Homo sapiens: one gene and its partners. The protein of the gene in region 1 interacts with the protein of each later gene in a pairwise test. Each region holds a gene or a part of one and is shown in the gene's direction. Other genes may lie near its edges. The genes, in order: LEUTX, TSPO, TF, SLC13A3, PNLIPRP1, GOSR2 and CDS2.

Region 1 (2,469 bases):
TAACAGACTTGCTTCTTTGGTTACTCACATCTTCCCTAAAGGAGTGAGCTTTCTGGGACCATGTTATTGTTAAAGATACGGAGGCAAACAGTATAAGTGTACTGATGCTGCCAAAGTCACAGAGCTAGTAAATGAGAGAATCGACATTCATTCTTAGGTCACTAAGCTTCATATCTCCTTCCCTACAGACCCCATTAATAAATGGCCAAACCAATAGCTTCAGGGTCTCACAAGCCAATCAACATAGACAGCAGTGCCACTGAGTCTATGACCGGTTAGGATAATAGGGCCTCAAATACTCTTATGAATCTTATAGACTCATATAAACCTGGTGTCAACATCATGCCACTATTCTATTCTATCTCAATAAGGACTCACCCAAATCTCATCTTGAATTGTAGCTCCCATAATTCCCATGCGTTGTGGGAAGGATCCGGTGGGAGATAACTGAATCATGGGGCGGTTTCCCCCATACGGTGCTCATGGTAATGAATAAGTCTCATAAGATCTGATGGTTTTATAAGAGGTTTCCCCTTTTGCTTAGGTCTCATTCCCTCTCTTGCTTGCCACCACGTAAGATGTGGCTTTGCTCCTCCTTGCTTTCCACCATGATTGTGAGGCCTCCCCAGCCATGTGGAACTGTGAGTCCATTAAACTTCTTTCCTTTATAAATTACCCAGTTTCAGGTATGTCTTTATTAGCAGCATGAGAAACAGAAAGATGTCCCCAAGTTGCTAGGAAAACATATTGGTGCCCAATGTCATGGAGAGGTTGATGTTCCTCCTCCAGGGGCTGTAGGATGAGGCCACCAAAATAAGCTTATCCCATCTGTGGCTTAAAAACATGTCCTGCTCAGTGGAAGTTGGCACTGATTTTCTAGGAATGCAGAACACTCCCAGCAAGAGAGTGAGGAGTGGGTCTCGTGAGTCAAATGTTTAGCCTAAGCTCTTGATTCACAGGTCAAGCTTAGGAAAGAAGCTTACCTTTGGAATATACATATTTGCATTCTAATAAAACATTTTTAAATTTTTTTTTGTATTTTCGTAGGCTATTGGGGAACAAGTGGTGTTTGGTTACATGAGTAAGTTCTTTAGTGGTGATTTGTGAGATTTTGGTGCACCCACCAACCGAGCAGCATACACTGCACCATATTTGTAGTCTTTTATCCCTCACCCCCTTCCCACCCTTTCCCCCGAATCCCCAAAGTCCATTGTGTCATTCTTATGCCCTTACATCCTCATAGCTTAGCTCCCACTTATGAGTGTGAACATATGATGTTTGGTTTTCCATTCCTGAGTTACTTCACTTAGAATAATGGTCTCCAATCTAATCCAGGTTGTTACAAATATCATTAATTCATTTTTATGGCTGAGTGGCATTCCATCATATAATTTATATATATATAAATTATATATATATAAATTATAATATTTGTATTATATATAATTATATACAATATAATTTATATACATTATACATAAATTATTATATATATATACATATATATATATACACACACACACACACACACCACAGCTTATCCACTCAATTGATGGACATTTGGGTTGGTTCCACATTTTTACAATTGCGAATTGTACTGCTATAAACATACATGTGCAAGTATCTTTTTTGTATAATGACTTATTTTCCTCTGGGTAGATAGCCAGTAGTTGGATTGCTGGATCGAATGGTAGTTCTACTTATAGTTCTTGAAGGAATCTTTACACTGTTTTCCATAGTGGCTGTACTAGTTTACACTGCCACCAGCAGTGTAGAAGTGTTGCCTGTTCACTGCATCCACGCCAACATCTATTTTTTTTTATTTTTTTTATTATGGCCATTCTTGTGGTTTCGATTTGCATTTCCCTAATCATTTGTGATGTTGAGCATTTTTTCATGTTTGTTGGCCATTTGTATATCTTTTGAGAATTATCTATTCATGTCATTCATGTCCTTAGCCCACTTTTTGATGGAATTGTTTGGTTTTTTTCTTGCTAATTTGTTTGAGTTCGTTGCAGATTCTGGATATTAGTCATTTGTCAAATGTATAGATTGTGAAGATTTTCTTCTAGACTGTGGGTTGTCTAGAACTCTGCTGTTCCTTTTGCCATGCAAAATCTCTTTAGTTTAATAAAGTCCTAGCTATTTATCTTTGTTTTTATTGCATTTGCTTTTGGGTTCTTGGTCATTGTGTTGCTGTCTATCTCATTTCTTAGGTCTAGTGGATAAAAGGGCGTCCATTGTCTCCTAAAGTTTTTATTATTTTTTATTTATGCTCTCTATTTCACTGAAGATTTCTCCCCTCATTTCTTGTATCTTTTTTTTTAATTTCCTTAAATTGGGCTTCACTTTTCTCTGGTGCCTCCTTGATTAGCTTAATAACTGACCTTCAGAATTCTTTTTCAGGTATATCACGGATTTCTTCTTGGTTTGGATCCATTGCTGATGAACTAATGTGATTTTTTGGGG
Region 2 (3,500 bases), on another chromosome or scaffold:
TGTTGGCCAGGCTGGTCTCGAACTCCTGACCTGAGGTGATCTGCCTGCCTCAGCCTCCCAAAGTGCTGAGATTACAGGTGTGAGCCACCGTTCCTGGCCTTCTGGGTCACCTATAGGGAGGTCTCCAAGAACAGAAAGACACCCTGAAACCCACTGGCTCGACCACCACCTCATAGATGGGGACACAGAGGCTCAGGAGATGAGATACCTTGGGGCAGCGATGGGTCTGGGGTCTTCGGGCCAGGAGTGAAGCCTCACAAGACCTGGAGACCCTGGGTCCCACCCTCAGTGGGGAAGGGCTCAGATTCTGCAGGGCCCGATGCTCTGTGGGGGCTGGGATGTTGCCGCGGCAGGTGGAGAGAGTGATGCTACTGGCCCTGAGAGAACCTTCTGGCACCGTTCAGAGGTGGGGTGGAGTGGCCTGCGGGTCCAATCCTGGCGCCGCAGGCTCTATGAGCCCTGTTTCAGATGAGGAAGGAGGCTGAGACGGGCGGTGACACAACTCCTGGCAAGTGGTCACGCGGCCCAGAGCAGCCCGGCAGACACCCAGCTCAAAGGGAGGGGTGGGGTGGGTTTTGGAGTCACTCGGACCTAGAAAGTTCTGTGACTTCTCATGTCTCAGTTTCCTCATCTGGAAAATGGGACCAGTCACGAGTCCACCATGGAGGCCGAGTGGGCCGTGTGGCTCAGGGAGAAGCAGCTGGTCCCCTGTGGCTGCTGTGGGGACTGAACAAGGCGGTGACCGTCGGGATGAGCACGGACTCCACCACGCAGGCCCCTGCCTACCAGAGGCCTGTGCACAACCAGAGCTGAGCAAGGCTTGGAACCTTCTCCTGCCTCTACGTCCTGCGCCCTCTACCCTGCCCCGATCTTGCCCCTGTTTTGGGGGCGCTGCTCCGTGCAGGGCATTTTCACCTGTGGAGTGTCCAGGGGCTCTCGTGGCTGATAAGGTCTCGTCACAGGTCCAAGCCTTGAGGCCCTGTCTTCCCCTGGAGGAAATGGGGCTAGTGGCCCCACACTGATACCCACAACCCCTCTCTTCTCTGGAGTTTTCAGGGAAACGTTGTTGTCCCACCCCTTCCTCCCTTGAGCTACCCCAGCCCCCCAAGAAGCAGACACAGCGGGTTTACCCACCTGACGTTGGAGGAAGCCAGGCCCAGAGACGAGCCTTGGATGGAGGCAGAGCCGAGGTCTGGATCCCGATTCGCTTTCTGAAGGAGACAAATAAAGGGTGTATAGGTGGCTTCACCCCTCTGCCTGAGCCTGAGTCCTGTCCCTGCCATGTGTGCCCCCTGGCCTGGCCCACCCCAGCTTTCCCTGGACTCATCCCAGAGCAGATATCTGGATCCTGCCTAGCCTGGCTCAGCATGACTCATCATGGTGGGTACCGCCCCTGCCCACCTGTTCCCCATTTGGGCAATTCAGGAGCTGGGCAGTTCCCCAGAGGCCCTAGGAAACTCCCCGCCCCCGACCAGGCTTTCTCCTTGTGGGGCATCTGACCGCCTGTTTTCTGGTGGGGCAGACCCTCTGAGCCCCTTGGCCCTGTGGGTCATAACCACAGCCAGGCCTGAGAAGGGGGCAGCCTGGGGTGGGAGTGTGAGCACGGGACTCAGAACTGGCTTCAGACCCTGCTCTCTTGCTGTGGCCTTGGGAAAGCCACCATGCCTCTGTGACTTTTATTCGTTCCATACAACGGGGGACCTGGATGGTGGTCTCTAAGGCCCTGTCAGTGGGAACACTGGGTGAGTCCCATTGTGATTTCCTGGGGACCGAGTGTGTGCCTGGCCCTGGCTGGGTGCTGGAGCCAGGTGACAGAATCGTGGGGAGTTCTGCCACGTGCTACAAGGTGAGGACCTCTAGAACATGGCGCTCAGTGAAGGAAGCCAGACACGAGGGCCACACACTGCGTGATTCCATTGATACCAAATGTCCAGGATGGGCAAGTCCCCAGAGAGAAGTCAGATTGCTGGCGGCCAGGGGTGGGAGGGAGGGGGAGGGGAACCACTGCTGATGGATACGGGGTTTCTTTTAGGGGTTGAAAATGCTTTGGAACTTGATACAGAGGGTGGTTGCACAACATTGGGAATATACAAATGCTGCTGAATGGTGCACTTTAAAACGGTTAATTTTAGGCTGGGCACGGTGGCTCACGCCTGCACTGGGGGTTTCCATTTGTGGCATGAACATCACTGAAAGCGCACCAGCTTCCATGTCGTATCAAGGGGTTCGGGATGTCCACGTGTCTTATGCTGGTGGTATTAACCTTGCTCGCCTGGACAGGGACACCTGTGAGTGAGAGCAGGCCATTAGTGTGGGGCAGGTGGGCCTCAACTGAGGGTGTCCTGGGAAAAGGCACGTACAGGCACCCTGGTCCGGCTCGTTTCCAGTGGAGGCTGAACGAGGCTCCTTATGGTTCCCCCACAATGTCACTCAGCTGTGGACTCACGCAGGCTCCAGCAGAGCAGCGGTTATGTCTTGGTTGCCCAGATGAGCAGTAGGCTGAGCTGGCCTGGGCTTACCTGAGAGGATGTAGTGGGAGGCTGAGCTGGGAGGTGGTCCCAGGGCTGTGGTCCAGAGCTCCATATCCACTTGGCGGTGGTGCAGGGCCAGTGCTCAGCAGTACCTCCTGCCCCAGGGAGGGTGGCCTTTCATATGTGTAGTGACATCAGACCCCCATCCCCACCCCATGAGCACGTGTACCCTGGAAGCTGGAGGGCGGGGCAGGAGGGCGGGGCGGGGCAGGAGGGAGGGGCGGGGCAGGAGGGAGCGGGAGGGAGAACACAGGAACGTTTCTTGCCGGGACATAGGTCACATGCCCACCCCCCCAGAATGTCCATCCTTACTGCTCATTTTTGCAGCGACCTTGGGGGATGGGGTAACTGTCCCCATTCAACAGGCGAGAAAACTGAGGTCCAGGGAGGGGAGGGAATCATAGTAAGTGGCAGCACCGGAATCTGCTGGATGCCTGACACTCTGTTCCTTTAAAACGTGCCGGGCGCGGTGGCTCACGCCTGTAATCCCAGCACTTTGGGAGGCTGAGGCAGGCAGATCAACTCAGGTCAGGAGTTTGAGACCAGCCCGGCCAACATGGTGAAACCCTGTCTCTACTAACAATACAAAAATTAGCCCGGCATGGTGGCACATGCTGGTAATCCCAGCTACTTGGGAGGCAGGAGGCTGAGACGGGAGAATCCCCTGAACCTGGGAGGCAGAGGTTACAGTGAGCTGAGATCGCGCCATTGTATTCCACCCTGGGCAACAGAGCAAGACTCTGTCTCAAAAAAAGCGCATATCTATGTTATCCATTTTTTGCCAAAATTGGGGTCATTCTGTAGTCAATGTTATATTCTGCTTTCTTCGTGTTATGTTGAGAACAACTTTCTCGTTACTAGAAAGCCTTCAGAAGCTTGGTTTGTGGGGGGCCAGTCTTTAATAGTCCCTGGCTGCTGGGCACTGAGGTTGCTTCTGTGCTCACCCAGCTCCATGGATCCCAGGCCAGC
Region 3 (3,500 bases), on another chromosome or scaffold:
TTTGATCATTCAGTACATAGTATCACCAAGAAGCTAAACCCAGAGAAAGTGCCCAATCCCTCAGCAAAAGGGTCATGCAGTTTTATGGACCCAGGACAGGAAGGAAGAGCATTGAGTACTGAGTCAGAGTGAAGACGAATGTTTTCAAGGTTCCCATCTTCCCCCAGAAAAAAAATCTCCACAGAAGCACCTGAGGAAGACCTCAAAGGAAGTCTCAAAATAAAGAGGGCTCTGAGCAAAGGTCATGGGCTAGGAATGAAAACAGGTGTAAGAAGAGCGTGGCCAGCCCAAGAGAGCTGTGTCCTTGACAGCAGAGTCCCCTCCAGAGACTGCATTGCACTGGCTGTGCTCTGAGTCTGGGGTGGCGAGGGCGGCTTTCTCCCACGGAGCCTGCCAGGTTAAGCCTTCGTAATTGCCTACGGTAAAGTCACGTAGGATTTTTGGCCAGGAGCTGGGCACCTCACCGGGGAAAAGAGAAACACAATCCATCACTCCCTCTATGCAGAAGGAATAGGAATGTGGTGGCTAAGTGCCCTTGCGAGGGAGACAGAGTCAACTGAAGCCAGCAGGGCTGTGCGTGGTCTAGTCAAGTTCTGGCCCTGGGTCCGTGGAGTCCTGGTAGCCACTCTCTACTTGTGTGGGTTGAGGTGGGCCTTCCTTGGAAGTCAAGGCTTCATCCAGGACTGGCCTGTTCTCTTTCAGGCAAACGAAGCGGATGCTGTGACACTGGATGCAGGTTTGGTGTATGATGCTTACCTGGCTCCCAATAACCTGAAGCCTGTGGTGGCAGAGTTCTATGGGTCAAAAGAGGGTAAGTTCTCCCTGGGACCCCAGGAAGGAGTTGTCATCCTTATTCTATATGCTGAGTGCTGTGTTTTACAGGCAGGTTTTGGATATCAGATATAATGAACATTCATCTTTGGAGAGTGAGTAGAGAATGAGGGGCCCTGTCAGCTGCCACAGCCACACATCAAGGCCTCTGGGGGCTTTGGGCTGGCTGAGGACTGGTGCTCCTAAAACTGAGCCCTGGGCCAGGGGCATATGCTTATCAGAGAAACACAGCAGGCTGTGTGCAGCTTGACCTGAAGGCTACTGCGGTCTACTGATATGTCTAGGGTCCCTGGAGGCCTCTGGAGCCATAGGTACCACTCACACAGGAGGGGTCACTCTGGAGCACACACTCAGAGGCCAGCAGCCCTGCAAGTCTTCTGAGATCAACCTGACTGTCTCTGGGCCTGTGCCAGGGGACATGAAATACTTTGATGGGCCTCTGTTACCACAGCTCCAGTTTCCTGGTGGCTGAGGTTGGTAGGTGTAGGCAGACACGCTGCAGGGCCAGGGGAGGCAAAGCATTCAGGACACATGTGCGTGTGGCCTTCTTGCCCCTGTTTGCCTGGAGGGGTAATATTATAAATATTCCTTCTATGGTCTTCTCTCTCCCCTGCAACCCTAGGAAGGTTTTCCTGATTCCCCACTCCTTATCGCCCAGTCCAGTAAAAGCATGGCCTCTCCGCTCCCCTCCCTCCTCAAGAGTCCGGTGGTGATGAGCCATGTTTCCCTGCACCAGGCTGAGGGCCTTCCATTCACACTGTGCCTTTGCAGATCCACAGACTTTCTATTATGCTGTTGCTGTGGTGAAGAAGGATAGTGGCTTCCAGATGAACCAGCTTCGAGGCAAGAAGTCCTGCCACACGGGTCTAGGCAGGTCCGCTGGGTGGAACATCCCCATAGGCTTACTTTACTGTGACTTACCTGAGCCACGTAAACCTCTTGAGAAAGGTAAGCTGGCAGGAGTCTGGGTGCCCTCGAGCAGCTGCCTCTGCTCCAGATGCCCACACAGGCTGCACTAGACAGTCACCATCAGCAGACATGTGGGATGAACTCAGGTGGGGGAAAGAGGTTAACAGACTTTAAACTGGCAGGTCTGCTGCACCAGCAGCACTTGGGAGGTGGAGCTGAGCTTTTTTCTGCTCTGAGCTTCCAAAACCCCAGCAGAGGCTGTTCTGATGAGTGAGGAAAGGGCGCAAGGCTCGGCAGAGGGTTTCAGTCTAGGCGATGGTGGTTCTCTTGTCCACTTCTCTGGATTTCTTTCCTGGAGGTTTCTCTGGAGCCCTGCACCTCTCTTAAGCAGTTCTCATGTCTGGGGCATGGATCCCAGAGGGGACCTCTCTCTGAGCTGTTCCAGCCTCTGACAAAGCAGGGAGAAGGTGCTCTGAGAAAGACCCGAGATAGGCCTTGGTTAGTGGGAAGCATAGGCCTGTTTCCTCTGATGGATGGTGGCCAGACAGAGGTCAACTTGTTCCTATTAGAAATCCTTGATCTTGATGAGTTAGCATAAGGGCAAGCTGGGGCTGCATGTGCTGGTTTGGTTTTAGTCCCCTCTGTTCCCTGATGGGCCTGGGTGGGGTGATGCCATTGGCTGTGGCCAGCCTCACTCATGCTCTGTTGTCCATTTCTCTGTGCTGAGCAGCAGTGGCCAATTTCTTCTCGGGCAGCTGTGCCCCTTGTGCGGATGGGACGGACTTCCCCCAGCTGTGTCAACTGTGTCCAGGGTGTGGCTGCTCCACCCTTAACCAATACTTCGGCTACTCGGGAGCCTTCAAGTGAGTGAGATGTCTGCTGCTCCATGGTGGCCAAAGTGCCAAATGTCCTCAGGGTGAGAGTTCTTTGCTGGTCCAAAGCCGAGCCCTGCCTGCCTACAGGGGCATCGAGGTGGCCTAATCCCCTCCCAGTGAGTCAGAAGCACAACCTGGGACTCCTAGGCCAAGCCAGCCCATGTTCCCTTTCATCTGACCCTGACAAGTAGGTCCTTTTCCTGGGGACCCTTCCTTTCTCCCCAGAGCCCTCAAGCCTGGTCAGTGTCTCCTCTCGGTGGATCGGGCAGAGCCTGAAAGGACAATCATGCCTCTAGTGTCTGGGCCCACTGTCCAGGGACTGGCCCTCTTCCCTCAATCTCAGCAGTGTTACCTGCTCAGCACACTGCCTGTCTCCTGCCCCCATCACCGTCTCTATCTGGGAAGCTGATTTCTTGCTTTCTCTTTTTACCTTGATTATATCCTAAAGTTTTACAACCAGCCAAAGGCACATTTTCACCCTCAGGAGACACTATACCATTATCTTCTATTCCAGAAGTTTAAAAGCTCTTTTCACATGAAAATATCTTCAGTTGCATTTTGCTTCTTTGGGTTATGAGGGCTTTTTATCTCGTGTGAGCTCATTCCCCCATCTCAGCACTACGCTGGAGGTCTGCACACCATGGTGTTGCTTCAGCTACGGGGCTGCACCAGGCTCTATCCTAGTGTGAGTGCTGGACAGTGTGATCAGACTCTCCAGGTGCAGGAGAAGGGCCTGCCCTGCAGGAGCCCTGCTGATGTGTTTCTTTGACCCAGGTGTCTGAAGGATGGTGCTGGGGATGTGGCCTTTGTCAAGCACTCGACTATATTTGGTAAGAATGGGACAAGAATCCACCAGGGCCACTCCAAGTAGTGGGTGTTCTTTTT
Region 4 (4,077 bases), on another chromosome or scaffold:
AATAGAAGTGACTCACCCCCCTTAAAAAAAAATAAGAATAACGGCCGGGCGTGGTGACGCACACCTGTAATCCCAGAACTTTGGGAGGCCCGAGATGGGCGGATCATGAGGCCAGGAGTTCGAGACCAGCCTGGCCAAAATGGTGAAACCCCATCTCTACTAAAAATACAAAAAAAAAAAAAAAAAAAATTAGCCAGATATGGTGGCACACGCCTGTAATCCCAGCTACTCAGAAGAATTGCTTGAACCCGGGAGGCAGAGGTTGCAGTGATCCGAGATCGCTCCACTGCTCCCCAGCCCAGCCTGGGTTACAGAGTGAGACTACATCTCAAAAAAAAGAAAAAAAAACCCAAAAATAAGAATAACTCATCAGCAGCAATAACTCTCATTGAGCACCTGCTCTGCCAGACACTGCGCTAATCACATTACATGTGTTATCTCATTTAAACTTCCTAACAACCTTCTTGTCTGGTGTAGACTATTTTTAAAAATTTAACTTTTAAGTTCAGGGGTACATGTGCAGATTTGTTGTATAGGTAAACTTGTGTCATGGGGATTTGTTGCACAGATTATTTCGTCATCCAGGTATTAAGCCTAGTGCCCATTAGTTATTTTTCCTGATCCTCTGTCTCCTCCCACCCTCCAGCCTCCCATAGGCTTCAGTGTCAGTTGTTCCCCTCTATGTGTCCATGTGTTCTCATCATTTAGCTCCCGCTTATAAGTGAAAACATGCGGCATTTGGTTTTCTGTTCCTGTGTTAGTTTGCTAAGGATAATGGCCTCCAGCTCCATCCATGTTCCCGCAAAAAACATGATGTCCTTCTTTTTTGTGACTGCATAGTATTCCATGGTGTAGACTATTATTATCACCACTCCACTTTCAGGCTCAGAGGCTGTTGTTGAAGGCCACGCAGTGAGTAAGTGGCCGTGCCAGGATTTGAACCCGGGTAATAGGAGTACGCGCCTTAATCCTCGCCTTGTCATCCTCAGCCATCTCACAGGCGAGTAAACAGAGGCGAGGAGAGGATAAGCCAGCTGCCCCAGGCCACATTGCTGGGAAGCCAAGAGGCAAGGCCACACTGCCCTGCGGCTGGGGTCCCGTTTGCTAATTCTAGTGCCTAACTTTCTCCAACGTTCCCGGGCCTCTTTCACCCGGTCCCAGGGGCGCAGGCACCACCCTTTTCCTCCAGGAGGAGCAGGGAGAGGGCGGGTTCCCCAGCGCAGTCCCCTCCCCGACCCTCCCCCAGGCTTTAAGCCGGCGCCGGGGCCAGGCGGGGCAGTCCCGGGCCGGCCCGTACCGCCAGGCGATCGCGCTGATGGCGGCGCTGGCAGCAGCGGCCAAGAAGGTGTGGAGCGCGCGGCGGCTGCTGGTGCTGCTGTTCACGCCGCTCGCGCTGCTGCCGGTGGTCTTCGCCCTCCCGCCCAAGGTAACGCCTCCTCCGCCTGTGCGCCCCCGGTCAACCACAGGCGGGATCCTCTTCTCCCAAGCCTCCAAGTTGGGAGACCGCTGAGGTCCCAGTGTAGACAGGCTCCACCAGACCCCCTCGCCTTCCCTCCCTTGCACCTGCCGCGGACCGCTGTGAACGCTCCTAACGCCTCTTCCCTCTTCCCAGCTGCTCCTTAGAGCTTGAGTCCCACCCTGCCTTCTGGATCTCACTTCCATGGGAATAATTTCGTTTCGTTTCAGTGACAGGTTCTCGCCGGTCACCCAGGCTGGAGTGCAGTGATGTGATCATAGCTCACTGCAGCCTCCAACTCCTGGACTTAAGCGATCCTCCTTCCGCAGCCTCCCTAGTGGCTAGAACTACAGGTGCATGCCCAGCTAATTTTTTTTTAATAGAGATAGGGTCTCACTATGTTGTCCAGGCTGGTCTGGAACTCCTGGACTCAAGCAATTCTCCCACCTTGGTCTCCCATATACTGGGATTACAGACGTGAACCACTGTGCCTAGCAGAATTCTTTCTTTCCTGAGCTCTAATTCTGTGCTTGGTGCTGTATTGCACATTTCACGCGACAGTCACAATGAACACTTACTGGGTGCCAAGCTGTGTGACATGGTGCAAGTCACTTAACCTCTCTGAACTTCAGTTTACTCATGTGTAAAAATGGGAGAAATGATAGTGCCCACCCATAGGGCAGCGGTGAATATCAATGAGGCAATATATGTAAATCTCTTATAACTAAACCTTGTACAGAATAAATGCCCAATAAGCAGTGACTGGTCTTTTTCTGCACCAGGTCCTTACGTGATGAGGACGGTAAGATTCATGAGTGCTTACTACGGGTGAGGATTTGCCTTTTGTGTATCACTTTATTTAATCATTTCAACGCGTCTCAGAGGGGAAAGATTATTTGACCCATTTTCCAGAGGAGAAAACCAAGGCTCGGGGAGAGAAAGTGACTTGCTCAGAGTCACACAGCAAGTGACTATGTCGGTATTCAGTCCCCGGCTTGTCAGAATCCAGAACCCTAGCTGTTTTCAGTCTCCCCAAGGAAGTAACCCCTGTAAGATCAAAGGCCGCAGGTGGAGTTCAGGAGTCATAACTGAAATCAACACTAGTGGGGGCTGGAAGGAGATGGTACCACAGGTCCCTTTTGGGTTCTTCACCTGTGCCCTGCCCAGCCCAGCCAGGGCATCATGAGAGGGCACTGGGCTTGTAAGATAAGGCTTCTACCTCCAGGAAGTTGCTTCACCATCTCTCAGTGAGGTATTAAATGTTCACAAAAATAAAAGTAAAGAGGAGGTATAATTTAGTGGTGCATTACCCAGCACCGATCAGCTGAGACCAGGGAGCTTCTCCTGGAAGAAGGAGCCCTCCTTGGGCACATGGAGTAAGAAGGTGACACCAGTGGTTCCAAGGAGACCCAGGGCTAACACACAGCAAGTTCATTAGTGTGGAATTATCTAAGCTATTAGACTTTCTCGACGTGGAAGAGAAAAACACAATAAATGATGGAAGAAGGATGAGGTCACCTTTGCAAAACTCAGCCCACCCCAGGCCACTTTCTGACCTGTGGATCTTAAGATCTTGGACCAATCTCCTTTCCTCTTTGGGTTTTGCTTCCCTGTAAGTGGAGCGATTACACCGCTAGCTTCTGGGATTGATGTGAGAGGTTGAGTAAGGCTTTGTGAAACATCTTTGGTGGAAGTGTGGGTGGCTGAGCCTTGACTGATTGCTGTCTGCGAGGCCATAGGCAGAGCTCTCTGGCAAGAAGAGATAAAACACAAGGTCTCTATTCTCTCAGTAGGGGTCCCGACAGCTTCTCTCTGCTCTGTTCTCTAGCAAGAACATGAACCCAGGAGCAGATCCAAGGGTTAAGGGGCGGGGAGCATTTACTACTTGAGGGGGACTCTTGAAGAAAATGAATACAGATTTACAAATACAGGATTCGGTACGAGGCTTGGGAGAGGTCTGAAGCTTGAGCTTCACAAAGGATCCTCTTCCTATCTGAACTCCAACATGCACAACTGAATGGAAAGCAGGGAGAGATAACAGGGAGAGCCCCTGGGATGTAACTAATCCCTTATGATGGTGCTAAGCCTGATGAAGAAGGTGTTTTATTGAGTGCTTAGCTCTTACCATGTGCTAGGGGCCATGCTAGGAGCTTGTCAGGCTTGTCCCATGTAATGCCCACAACAACCAGAGAGGCAGCTGTTATTTGCATCCCTATTTGACAGGTGAAGAAACGGAAACTCAGCGGGGTTAGGTGACTTGCCTAAGGTTACACAGCTGCTGCAAAGCCAGAATGCAGAGTCTGTACTCCTTTATGTGTGTGTGTGTGTGTGTGTGTGTATGTGTGTGTGTGTGTGTGTGTGTGTGAGAGAGAGAGAGAGATAGGGTCTTGCTCTGTAACACAGGCTGGAGTGCAGTGGCACGATCTTGGCTCACTGCAACCTCCACCTCCCAGGCTTAAGCCATCCTCCTGCCTCAGCCTCCCAAGTAGCTGGGACTATCAGCTCCTGTCACCACACCCGGCTAATTTTTATATTTTTAGTAGAGACGGGGTTTCACTATGTCACCCAGGCTGGTCTCAAACTCCTAGACTCAAGCGATCCACCAGCCTCGGCTACGCAAA
Region 5 (3,500 bases), on another chromosome or scaffold:
TACAGCCTAGGTATGTAGTAGGCTGTGCCATCTACGTTTGTGTGAGTACATGCTATGATGTCCACACAATGATTAAATTACCTAAGGACACATTTCTCAGAACATATCTCCATTGTTAAGCAACGCAGGACTATATAACTTTATGTACTGATGTTAATTGCAGACTTCTGCTAATAATTTTTCTTTTCTGTTATAAACCTAGGCATTTCGTCCTTTCTCTCTCTTTTTTTTTTTTTTTTTTTTTTTTGAGAAAGAGTCTTTGCTCTGTCACCCAGGCTGGAGTGCAGTGGCACGATCTTGGCTCATTGCAACCTCCGCCTCCCGGGTTCAAGAAATTCTCGTGCCTCAGCCTCCCAAGTAGCTGAGATTACAGGCATGTGCCACCACACCTGGCTGATTTTTGTATTTTTAGTAGAGATGGGGGGCGTTTTGCCATGTTGGCCAGGCTGGTCTCGAACTTCTGACCTCAAGTGATCCACCCATCTCGGCCTCTCAAAGTGCTGGGATTACAGACGTGAGCCACCATGCCCGGCCTCTTTCTCTTAATAGATGTTTTTTTAAACATAAATCTAATATTACTTCAGATATGCTGTTTTCTGATTAGTGCAATAACACATGCTTATTGTGCCATACTATGTGGCCAATTTGTTACTGTACAAATAATTCTTCCAAAACATATAAAATGATATGCAGGAATTCTATTTTATTTTCTATTAGAAAGCTTTAAGGAAAAATTAACTTGAGTTTTAAAAACCATAGTTTGAGGTGCTAGCATATAGCTGGCTTTTCCATTTCTCCATCCTTTATTTGGAAATTAATTCGGAAAAATAATCCTGTTAATCTAGAAGAGAAAACAGCAGCCTGGCATTGTATGGTAATTAGAACTCATTTCCGTGAACAGGGATGTTTATGTTTCTCTATTTCAAGGGGGATTCTCAAACCAGGCTCAACCCATTCCTATGAGTTTGATGCAAAGCTGGATGTTGGAACAATTGAGAAAGTCAAGTTTCTTTGGAATAACAATGTGATAAATCCAACCCTCCCCAAAGTGGGTGCCACCAAGATCACTGTGCAAAAGGGAGAAGAGAAGACAGTGTATGTATCTTTGCTGGCTGGTGCCTAAAAATGTTTGCAGAGATTCATGTTATAATGAAAACCCACCCTAGAAAGTTACGTGTAGTTAAGCAAGAAAAGCCAAGAAAATTTACCCATCTGTGGCCCCTTCTCCCCAAACAAGCAACTGACAAACAGCATAAAATGTTTCTGTTGGGTGCACCTTATTGGGTGTTCTCAGCACTGCCTGTGGGAATACAGAAGATAAGGCTGCACTTTCAAGGTAAAATGAGAAAATACAAGAAAGAGAACAAGAAATCCTTTCTGAAGGGTACAAGTTTATAAGTATGGGCTAGTGAATAGCTATACTTGAAAGAGGAGAAGACCAATTACATTTCAGGATAATAAAACGGAAAATAAATCGGTTTTAGGAAAAGATCGAAAATTTTACATAGGACAAGAATGCACTAGGATTGCAATACTTGTGAGATCCTGACCTGTGGTCTCCCTGGCTTTGGGCCTGAATAAGCACAGGGCCGTGGGTAGGAAAAAGGGACGGCTGGAGGAAAGTTGGAGTGGTGACCTGAGAGGGCAGAGCGACTGTCTCTCAAACCTCAGACCCCAAGTCTGGCTAGTAGAACATGTGGCTTTGTGGGAAGGAGATCCTGGGCTCTCAGCCACCGATGTTCTTGAAGTTTGGGGTTAGGTGGAGTCACCGAGTTCAGGTCCCAGAGATTGTCACTCCCCCAGGTGGGGAGGGTGGGGTGGCAGAGTAGAATGGGGGCTGACTCCACATCTGGGTCTCCTCGAACTGGATGACTTAGTGAGGTTCTCCTTATCCCCACGAGGCAAGGAGAACAAAGAGGTTGGCCCTGCCAGGTGGTGGGTGGAACCAGGAGGCCTCATAAGCTAGAGCATAGTACAGAGGAGGCTGGGCCGGGCTGGTCGGGAGCCCTGTGCAAGCTGGAGGTGCAACCAAATCCTTTCCTCCCTGACCCCATCAGAGGATACTCAGCCTCTAAATTCAGCTCCCCAAGGCCCCATTAGCAAGCATCCCATGGCCTGGATCCTGGGACTGTGTGGTTAAAAACATGTCAGGTGGTGGCATCATTGGAATCTTAAAAATTAGAGGTGTTCCCAGGAGATGACTTGCTCACAGGTAAGGCATACAAGTCCAAATCAGCCAGGGCATTGCATCTTCCAGGTTTTCTGAGGAAAGGCTGAGGCTTTCTGAACTTTCTGCAAATGGAACAGAACATACTTAAGGCTGCACCTGAGGTCCTGTGCCCATCAGCTGTCACCTGCATTCCAGTGGCTGAGTGCAGCTCCCCTCGCTGTCTGCTCCAGAAAGACTCTTTCTTAAGAGCAGCTGGATATAAGACATCAGGTTTTCTAAACAGAGGAAAGTCAAAACAGCTTCAAATCTCTCAAACTAGTTTGGGAAGTAAAAACACTGAATTAGTTGAATTACTCAAACATTTTCCTGTTATGAAAATGGCCAGTAACATTTAATAATAATAATAATAATAATAATAATGAAGAAGCTAAAGAAAATCAAGATTTTGGTCCAAGCTCTTCTCAGAATCCCCTCATATTTTTTAGTAACCTCATTGGGGTTTCAATTCCTACTAAGGAATCTGCCGACTAGGATTCCCTCCAATGACACAGTATCCAAAGAGAAAGGCAGCCCTCCCCCTCTTTATTTCTCCGTCCCCCTCTCTTTATTAAGTACCTTTGGTAAATGTACCCTTGCAAATGACTTTATTCAGTACCTATTGTATGGCCTGGCAAACAGTAAGGGATGCAAACACTGAGCCTACACTCAAGGAGCTTACAGTTCAGCTGTTGAGAAAAATCAGACTTATGGTTCACAGGGAAGGTCAAAAGACCAAATAAAGAACTCCCAGGAGAGGCTCAGAAAGACAGTGGCCAAGGAGGAAAGCAGAGGGCCGCGGGGAGGCTGTGATGGAAGGAAGGGCAGCTCTCAGGATGAGGCAGGGAGTAGGAGGGAGGAAGGGCACAGGGGCAGGGCAACAGGTCCAAGTGCATGAGGGGCGACAGGGCCCAAGTGCAGGGAATATGATCGGAGGCCTCCGATGCCAAGTTAGGGCTTCTTGGCAGAAAAAATGAAACACAGAAGAGAAAGTGGGAAGGGGCCAAGGAACACCAGTGAGGAAATGGGGCAAAGCTTCCGAGCTCACAGGTGGTGAGGCCTGAGAGAAGTCCGTGGTTCTTGAACAACCACAAAAATAACTGCTTACATCTGCATTGTTTTTTGTTAATTGTAAGACTTTTTACATTTACCATCATGGGATGTTACGTTCTTATCATGGAATTCTCAACAGTCGTGGGAGAATGACTGAGATGGAATCTCGCTCTGTTGCCCAGGCTAGAGTACAGTGGCATGATCTCAGCTCCACTGCAACCTCCACCTCCTGGGTTCAAGA
Region 6 (3,500 bases), on another chromosome or scaffold:
CTTATCTCAAGACCATGTTTTTCCTTTATAGATTTTGCCCTTTAATGAGCGAAATGTAAAGGCAAAGTGAGTGAAATGAAAATGACCAGATTGTTGCCACTACTTTTAAGTAAAGTTAACAACAAACTTACATGATGCTGTGTAGGTTACACAGCGTTTTCATGTTCATCATGGTCAGAGGCAGCCTGGATGCAAAGTGGATGTTATGGGGTGGTGGGGGGCGGTGAGTAGTTTCATGAACTTTTAAAAAGCACTTCCATTAAAAAATTCTTCCTAGATCTTCTGTAAACCTTTTTTAAAGACGGCTACAATGACCCTGGCTTATTTGCTACTATTTCTCTGCTTTGTTATATTATCACCCAAGCCCACCATGGACCCCATGCTAGAGAGGGCTAAGACTTCTTTTTCCTCATGTCCACGCTCCCAAGTCATGCTTGTGTATCACCTGTTTCTTATGGACTTCCAGTGTGTTATGTTGTGTTAGAATTCCCAGTTCAGTTTGAGACAGATTTTGCACTTGGCATATTAGTAGTTCCCACCTTGCCATTCATACTTGCTTTGTTGTTTCATATTTATGTTTTCTTAGCATGAAATGTAGCCGCTGGAATTGTATTATTGGCCACATTGTCTCTGATTGGTTCAAAGCAAATAGAGATTTGATGGGAAAAGTCAGTGGATTATGGGCCTGTACAAAAGTGCTTTGATGAACGTCCTGCCATGTACATCTCCTCAGGGTATGCCAGAACCTCTCTAGGACACATTCCTCAAACTGCTGGGTCATAGCATGGACACATGCTTTATTCTACTAGTTATTGTCAGAAAGCATTTAAAGTGTTTTACCAATTTATAATCCTACCAGCTGGGTATGAGAGTTCTAGTTTCCCTGTTTCCTTATTAATGCATATGTCCCCAAACTTTAAAATATTTGTCAGTTTGATGGGCTGAAGAAATGTGATCTCATTGCTTTTCATTTGTGTTTTCCTAGTTGAGTGTCATTTTGTATATTGATTGACCATTTGGGTTTTCTTTTCTGTCATTTGCCCTTTTTTCATTTAAAAAAAATGCCTTGTTTGACTTTTTGTATTGATTTGTAACAATTCTTTATATATTTTCTGCACGTCAATCCTTTGTTATCTGCTGCAGATACCCTCCAGTCTGTGCCATTCATTTGTTTATTTTGTGGCTTTGGTGTACAGAAGTTTTTTGTTTTCATGTTGTCAGATGTATCCATCTTTTTCTTTGTGGTTTGTGGGTTTTGTGGGGGTGGGTAGTTTTTGGATTTTGTCTTATTTAAGAAATCTTCTGTAACCCGAGGTCATTTATGCACACCTGTATTTTCTTCAGAAAGTTTGAAAGCTGCTCTGCTTTTTCCATTTGGGTTTTAAGTGAGCTTGAGTTTATTTTTATGTGTTACCTGAGGTGGCCTTTTTCTGTACGGGTAACAAACCGGAGCTGTTGGCATTTATTGTAGTCCCTTCTTTCAAAAGCTCCCAAATAACGTGGGGCTGTGTCTAGGCTGTTTCTTTCCTCTTGGGCCAGCTGTAGGGTTTGCCTTTCCTTGTCTGTCTGCACCTGCACTGCCGCCATATTGTTTCCATTGTTACTGCTTTGTAAGTCATAATGGCAGGTGGGACAAGTCATTCCTCCCCCTCCTTCTTCAGAGTGGTCTTGGCTATTCTTTACCTCCCCCCTTTTTATTATGTCACTGTTCGTGTTGATCATATTACCAACTTTCAGATTTTTCTGTTAAATCAGCATTGAAAATTTACCTCACAGCCTGCGTCAGGACTTCCTTAGAGTCCTAATTCTCCTTTCTGTCCCCGTTACCCTCCGGTCCCCTGTACCTGTTCCCTTGGTTGCCCTGCTTCAGGTGTCGGCTACCTCAGGCTGCATTCCTACATCAGCCCCCATACCTCCACACCCCCGCATCATCCCACAATATCCCAGACTTACTTTCCGGAAGCAACGGCCTGGTCTCGGACTCTAGCAGTGATTTCTAGTTGCTTCTCAGGGCCACAGGTCTTGCCTAGGAGCACCCTGGGGAGTCATTTGACAGCTCACCCAGCTTCTTTTGGTGCCCGAGGGCATATCTGGAGGCCATAGGGAAGCCCTGGAAAAGACTGGGCACAAGCTGAAGCCAAAGTTGGGTGCCTGGCTGGCATTGGTAGATTTGGGGTCCTGGTTTGCATTGCTCACGATGCAGAATGGTTGCTGACCTTTCCTCCAGCGTTGGGGATGATGTGAGAGTCCAGCAGGCCCCCTTCATGTGGGCCCTAACTTGGGGAAATCTCCACCGTGAGCACCGGGAAGTGGATGGTGGGGCCAGCATAAGCAGTATCCCGAGGACTGATCATGGAGGACCATTAGGAAGGGGGTCTTAAGGATGACCTTGGCCAGACCGTGGGAAGCCTCCAGAGAGTGTTACCCAGATCCAGGGTACAGTGTTGCATTTCCAAATGAGATGGCAGTTCCTTCGTTCCTTGATATTGTCGGAGAAGGATGTTTACCAAACAGAAGGTCCCTGTCTCAGGGTCTTCCTCTGAATGGTTTCCTCCAGTGAGTCACTTCAGCATCCTCTCCCCCAACCCGATTCCCTTTCAAGCAGCCCACCCTACTTGTAATCCACATGTCTTGAATGAATTTTTGCATATCATTTTCTTCTATCTTCCTTCACCAAATGATGTCTCCCTTCTTCACAGCGATGCTCAGAACTCTTTCCATCCACATAACTTACCTGGTTTCTCTTTCTCAGCCCCACCCCTCTGTCTGCTTGCCTGTGACACCACTGTGCAGAGCTGCCCCTCTTTCTGTTTGTTTATACTTATGTGTATTGCTTTTCTCGTGAATCTTCCCAGGGCTTGTTCATGTCTGTTTAGCCTGTCATTCCTCATTATGTTGTTTCTCAAGGACAAGGATTATATCTCCCTCGCCCTTTGACTCTTCCTGGTACAGGCCAGTGCTTAGCACATTAGGTCGTAGAACAGAAAGTAGGATTGGCCGGGTTCAGTTTGAGGTTTATCACTTGCTGTGTGATCTTGAACAAGTTACATAACCTTTCTGGGCTTCAGTTTTTATAAAATGAGGATGATAATGGTACTTTCCTCATAGGGTTATTGATTTGGCAGAGTATCTTGGATATGGTAAGCACCCATAATCTGCCTATCAGTGTTATTGTTAGTAGTTAAGATATTAGAAACCATGCCAAAACGTGGGACCTAAAGTGCCACATACAAATTTTACAGTTCAGTGATGCTGTCGATTTAAATCAGTTACATGTTGGCATCAGAAAAATTGTCTTTCCTGACTGAAGCGCTGTTGATTACTCCTGTCTCACTCATTTCCTCCCTCTTCCTTTGATAGGCAGGTCCACGAGATCCAGTCTTGCATGGGACGCCTGGAGACGGCAGACAAGCAGTCTGTGCACAGTGAGTAATTAACTGTGGAGACCAGAGTCCTTTCTCTGATGACAGGGTGCTAATGGGCTGGGCTTCCTGACTGCA
Region 7 (3,500 bases), on another chromosome or scaffold:
TTCGTATTATGAAGGTCTTCTATTTATTTATTTTTTGAGACGAAGTTTCGCTGTTGTTGGCCCAGGCTGGAGTGTAATGGTATAATCTCAGCTGACCGCAACCTCTGCCTCCTGGGTTCAAGCAATTCTCCTGCCTCAGCCTCCTGAGTAACTGGGATTACGGGCATGCCACCACGCCCAGCTAATTTTGTATTTTTAGTAGAGATGGGGTTTCTCCATGTTGGTCAGGCTGGTCTCGAACTCCTGACCTCAGGTGATACTCCCGCCTTGGCCTACCAAAGTGATGGGATTACAGGCGTGAGCCACCGCGCCTGGCCTATGAAGGTCTTCTAATTCCCGGTTGTTGTTTTTTATTTTTTTCTCATAGAATTAATTTACAGACTTTAAAAGCTTCTTTATTGATTAACATTGATAGATATGATACCCAAATGTTACCTATTTTTCTTATTTGGCTACAAAATCAAAAAAATACTATATAAATCTTTCAAAATGTTAAATGTTAAAAAGGTCTCAGAGTAAATGTGGAGACTCTTTGCAGAAAAAAATGTATGTGTTTTATAGAGAAAGTTGATTAGTTTCAGTTTTCCTGGTTATCGGATGACTGTGATTTAGACATTTGTGAGCACTTTCCTGGGAGTGGCCACTCTGGTATCCTTGAAAGGCACTCCCGGCGCAGTGCTTGAAGACCACAAGGCGCCTTACCCAGGCAGTGGGTGAGGGTGCTTGGAAGAAATGCTTTCCAGTTAATGACTGTTAGCATGAGAACCATTTGTTCTAGTAATAAGCAGTCATTCAGTATTCAACGCTTCTCTTTAGAACATTCACTGACTGTAGGGTCTGCTATGGACGGTGTCTGTATTTCTGAGAGGGGCTGGTGTTATCAGTGTTCATAAGGATATTATTCAGAATTTTATTGCCTGTTTTGACTCCACATAATCAATTTTTTCCCTACTGATTTAAAGAAATAATACAATCTTTTTTAAATCAATAATATTTAAGAGTTTTATTTTTATTTATCTATTTATTTTTTGAGATGGAGTTTCTCTCTTGTTGCCCAGGCTGGAGTCCAATGGCGTGATCTCAGCTCACTGCAACCTCTGCCTCCCGAGTTCAAGTGATTCTCCTGCCTCAGCCTCCCGAGTAGCTGGGATTACAGGCGCCCACCATCACACCCAGCTAATTTTTATATTTTTAGTAGAGACAGGGTTTCACCATGTTGGCCAGGCTGGTCTCAAATTCCTGACTTCAGGTGATCTGCCTGCCTTGGCCTTCTACAATGCTGGGATTACAGGCATGAGCCACCGTACCCAGCCGACTGCATATTTAAATTGGTAAGGTAGAAAATGAGCATGAGAGTCTAACAGCTGATGGATATGGGAACATAATACTTGATAAAATCATTCAGAATATGTTTGATAAACAAGAAGATTGTATAAAACCTGCACTGTCCTACTAATGTAAAGCATTTCTCCTCCCTCACTTTATTCTCAACCTTACAACTGCCAGAAATTATATAATCTTGAATATATTTGAGAAACTCTTTTTAAAATGAATCTTGTAACTAATTTCTTTTTTGAATTTATATATATAAATATATACATACTTATTTTATAATAGAGACAGGGTCTTAAAATGTTGACCATTGAACTCCTGGGTTCAAGCGATCTTCTCGCCTCGGCCTCTCAAAGGGCTGGTACAGCGTGAGCCACCGTGCCCGGCCATTGTAACTAATTTCACAGGGCAGATAATCATCCTTTAAACTGTTTGAAAAGATTTGAGTGTTACTGTTTCTGGTTTTCACACTTTTCCATCTTTTCTAGGATCCACGTAGGTGGAGGAGATTCCTCTCCACAGTTTGTTAAGCTACATTCTATGTTGTTAAGGTCTCCCAGCCCTTCTGGACTGGCACTAGAGGCTGTTGGGGGTGAAAAAGTACAGCTGTTTGTGTGTCATACTGCCTCTGGTTCAGAAAAGAGACGGACACTGACTCTTCACTATTAATTTTGCCAAAGTCTCCTTGAAAGAATGCTAATTTGTTCCTGGCACTGGGCAGGGTTCCTGCCTTCCAAGTCTTGTCATGTGGTGGTTACTTGGCTGGGGTAATAGTGAGGCACCCCCTCCCCACCCCCACGTATGGTCCCCACCGGGCAGCTTCCTATGCCAGTCACTGATATTTGTTCTCATGTTGTTTGCCCCAACAGTAGGGATGGCATTGAGCCCACTAAGTTGACTGACCTTTTGAAGAAAGTTAAACTTTATGGTGTTATTTTGAGTAGGCAGTCTGTGGTGCAGAATTTGTAGGCAGCAAAGGGTATTCTGTGAAGTTTCCTTTCTCCCGCCTGCCTCTCCCCAGGGACAGCCTCATGCCACACTGTGGTTCTCATGAGCACTGCTGTCTGTGTGGAAGGACCTGACCTGTCCTACCAAAGTCAGACATCTTTTTGATTTGTTGTCTTTGGCAGAAGCTCCTTTGTATTAAGGTCTCCATAGGGCCAGCTTGGGGCTTCTCTGTAAAGACTTTGCTGAGGTTTTGAGAGTTCCTGGGACTTGGGATTTACGGGCAACACTCTCTGCCCCTGGGTCTCTGATGTGGAGAGGATGTCTGCCATTGACACCGAACCCCTGAGTGGGCAACTCTCAGAGCCATATCTCCACAGTCCATGCCTGGCTAGTCCTGTGGTTTCAGTGGTCTACAAGACATTCCTAGGTGCATGCCCTTCAGTCCACACAAACTGACTTTGTCTCAAATCTGAATTCTCTCATTCTACTCTTACCACCCTCCTTCAGTTTCTTTCTTCTGCGATAAAATCCCAGATGACTCGGTTACTCAGGCTTGAAATCTCCTATTCCTTTGTTCCCGTGCCCAGGGCAGGATGCAGATTCTAACCAGGTGTGACTTGGAATCCTTATCTGTTTGTTGTTTGTTGTCTGTTTGTTGCTCTTGGAGACTTCAACATTTCAGGACTGCAGTATTGTAAATGCCTGCAGTATCCTAAATCCGAATTCCTTACCTCTCCTGGAATCCTTATCTGTCTTTTACTCTTTGAGATTTCCCAAATTTCAGGATTTATTGCTTGCCTTATTGTAAACCCTGTGAATTGAGCTCCCTCCTGTTAGGATTTGCTCTAGGTCCCTCCTAATCCATCTTGTTCTTTGTATCTTTCAGGAGTTCTGAAACTGCCCTAATAATTATTGGGGGGGTGGGGTGGAGTGATAGAATTCTGGCTCTTTTTCATAATGCTTAAACTTTAAGATCCTTTGTAGTCTTCTGTCTCTCATTTCCTTCCAATTCTTGTTTTAGGTTCAGGGGATACATGTGCAGGTTTGGTACACGGGCAAATTGCACATTGCTGAGGTTTGGTGTACAAATGATTTTGTCACCTAGGTAGTGAGCATAGTACTAGATGGGTAGTTTTTCAATCCTCACCAGCCTCCCACTCTCCACCCTCAAGCCCTGGTGTCTCTTGTTCCCCTCTTTGTGTCCATGTGTAGCTCCCAGT

Evidence for each region.
Region 2: the proteins of LEUTX (region 1) and TSPO interact in binary tests that used the Homo sapiens proteins (3 or more experiments, as listed by UniProt).
Region 3: the proteins of LEUTX (region 1) and TF interact in binary tests that used the Homo sapiens proteins (3 or more experiments, as listed by UniProt).
Region 4: the proteins of LEUTX (region 1) and SLC13A3 interact in binary tests that used the Homo sapiens proteins (3 or more experiments, as listed by UniProt).
Region 5: the proteins of LEUTX (region 1) and PNLIPRP1 interact in binary tests that used the Homo sapiens proteins (3 or more experiments, as listed by UniProt).
Region 6: the proteins of LEUTX (region 1) and GOSR2 interact in binary tests that used the Homo sapiens proteins (3 or more experiments, as listed by UniProt).
Region 7: the proteins of LEUTX (region 1) and CDS2 interact in binary tests that used the Homo sapiens proteins (3 or more experiments, as listed by UniProt).

The regions. Positions count from the first base shown.
Region 1 is NC_000019.10:39,781,854-39,784,322, forward strand, and holds part of LEUTX (paired-like homeodomain transcription factor LEUTX), read left to right. Parts: intron 1-2,469.
Region 2 is NC_000022.11:43,154,559-43,158,058, forward strand, and holds part of TSPO (translocator protein), read left to right. Parts: exon of another isoform or gene 1-1,380; intron 1,381-3,500. UniProt on the Homo sapiens protein: Can bind protoporphyrin IX and may play a role in the transport of porphyrins and heme. Promotes the transport of cholesterol across mitochondrial membranes and may play a role in lipid metabolism, but its precise physiological role is controversial.
Region 3 is NC_000003.12:133,752,893-133,756,392, forward strand, and holds part of TF (serotransferrin isoform 1 precursor), read left to right. Parts: intron 1-702; coding exon 703-811; intron 812-1,602; coding exon 1,603-1,779; intron 1,780-2,470; coding exon 2,471-2,603; intron 2,604-3,389; coding exon 3,390-3,445; intron 3,446-3,500. UniProt on the Homo sapiens protein: Transferrins are iron binding transport proteins which can bind two Fe(3+) ions in association with the binding of an anion, usually bicarbonate.
Region 4 is NC_000020.11:46,648,660-46,652,736, reverse strand, and holds the start of SLC13A3 (Na(+)/dicarboxylate cotransporter 3), read left to right. Parts: upstream 1-1,277; 5' UTR 1,278-1,315; coding exon 1,316-1,426; intron 1,427-4,077. UniProt on the Homo sapiens protein: High-affinity sodium-dicarboxylate cotransporter that accepts a range of substrates with 4-6 carbon atoms, such as the citric acid cycle intermediates succinate and alpha-ketoglutarate (2-oxoglutarate), as well as other compounds including N-acetyl-L-aspartate.
Region 5 is NC_000010.11:116,604,459-116,607,958, forward strand, and holds part of PNLIPRP1 (inactive pancreatic lipase-related protein 1 precursor), read left to right. Parts: intron 1-683; exon of another isoform or gene 684-927; coding exon 928-1,095; exon of another isoform or gene 1,096-2,445; intron 2,446-3,500. UniProt on the Homo sapiens protein: May function as inhibitor of dietary triglyceride digestion. Lacks detectable lipase activity towards triglycerides, diglycerides, phosphatidylcholine, galactolipids or cholesterol esters (in vitro).
Region 6 is NC_000017.11:46,926,160-46,929,659, forward strand, and holds part of GOSR2 (Golgi SNAP receptor complex member 2), read left to right. Parts: intron 1-3,360; coding exon 3,361-3,425; intron 3,426-3,500. UniProt on the Homo sapiens protein: Involved in transport of proteins from the cis/medial-Golgi to the trans-Golgi network.
Region 7 is NC_000020.11:5,133,508-5,137,007, forward strand, and holds part of CDS2 (phosphatidate cytidylyltransferase 2), read left to right. Parts: intron 1-3,500. UniProt on the Homo sapiens protein: Catalyzes the conversion of phosphatidic acid (PA) to CDP-diacylglycerol (CDP-DAG), an essential intermediate in the synthesis of phosphatidylglycerol, cardiolipin and phosphatidylinositol.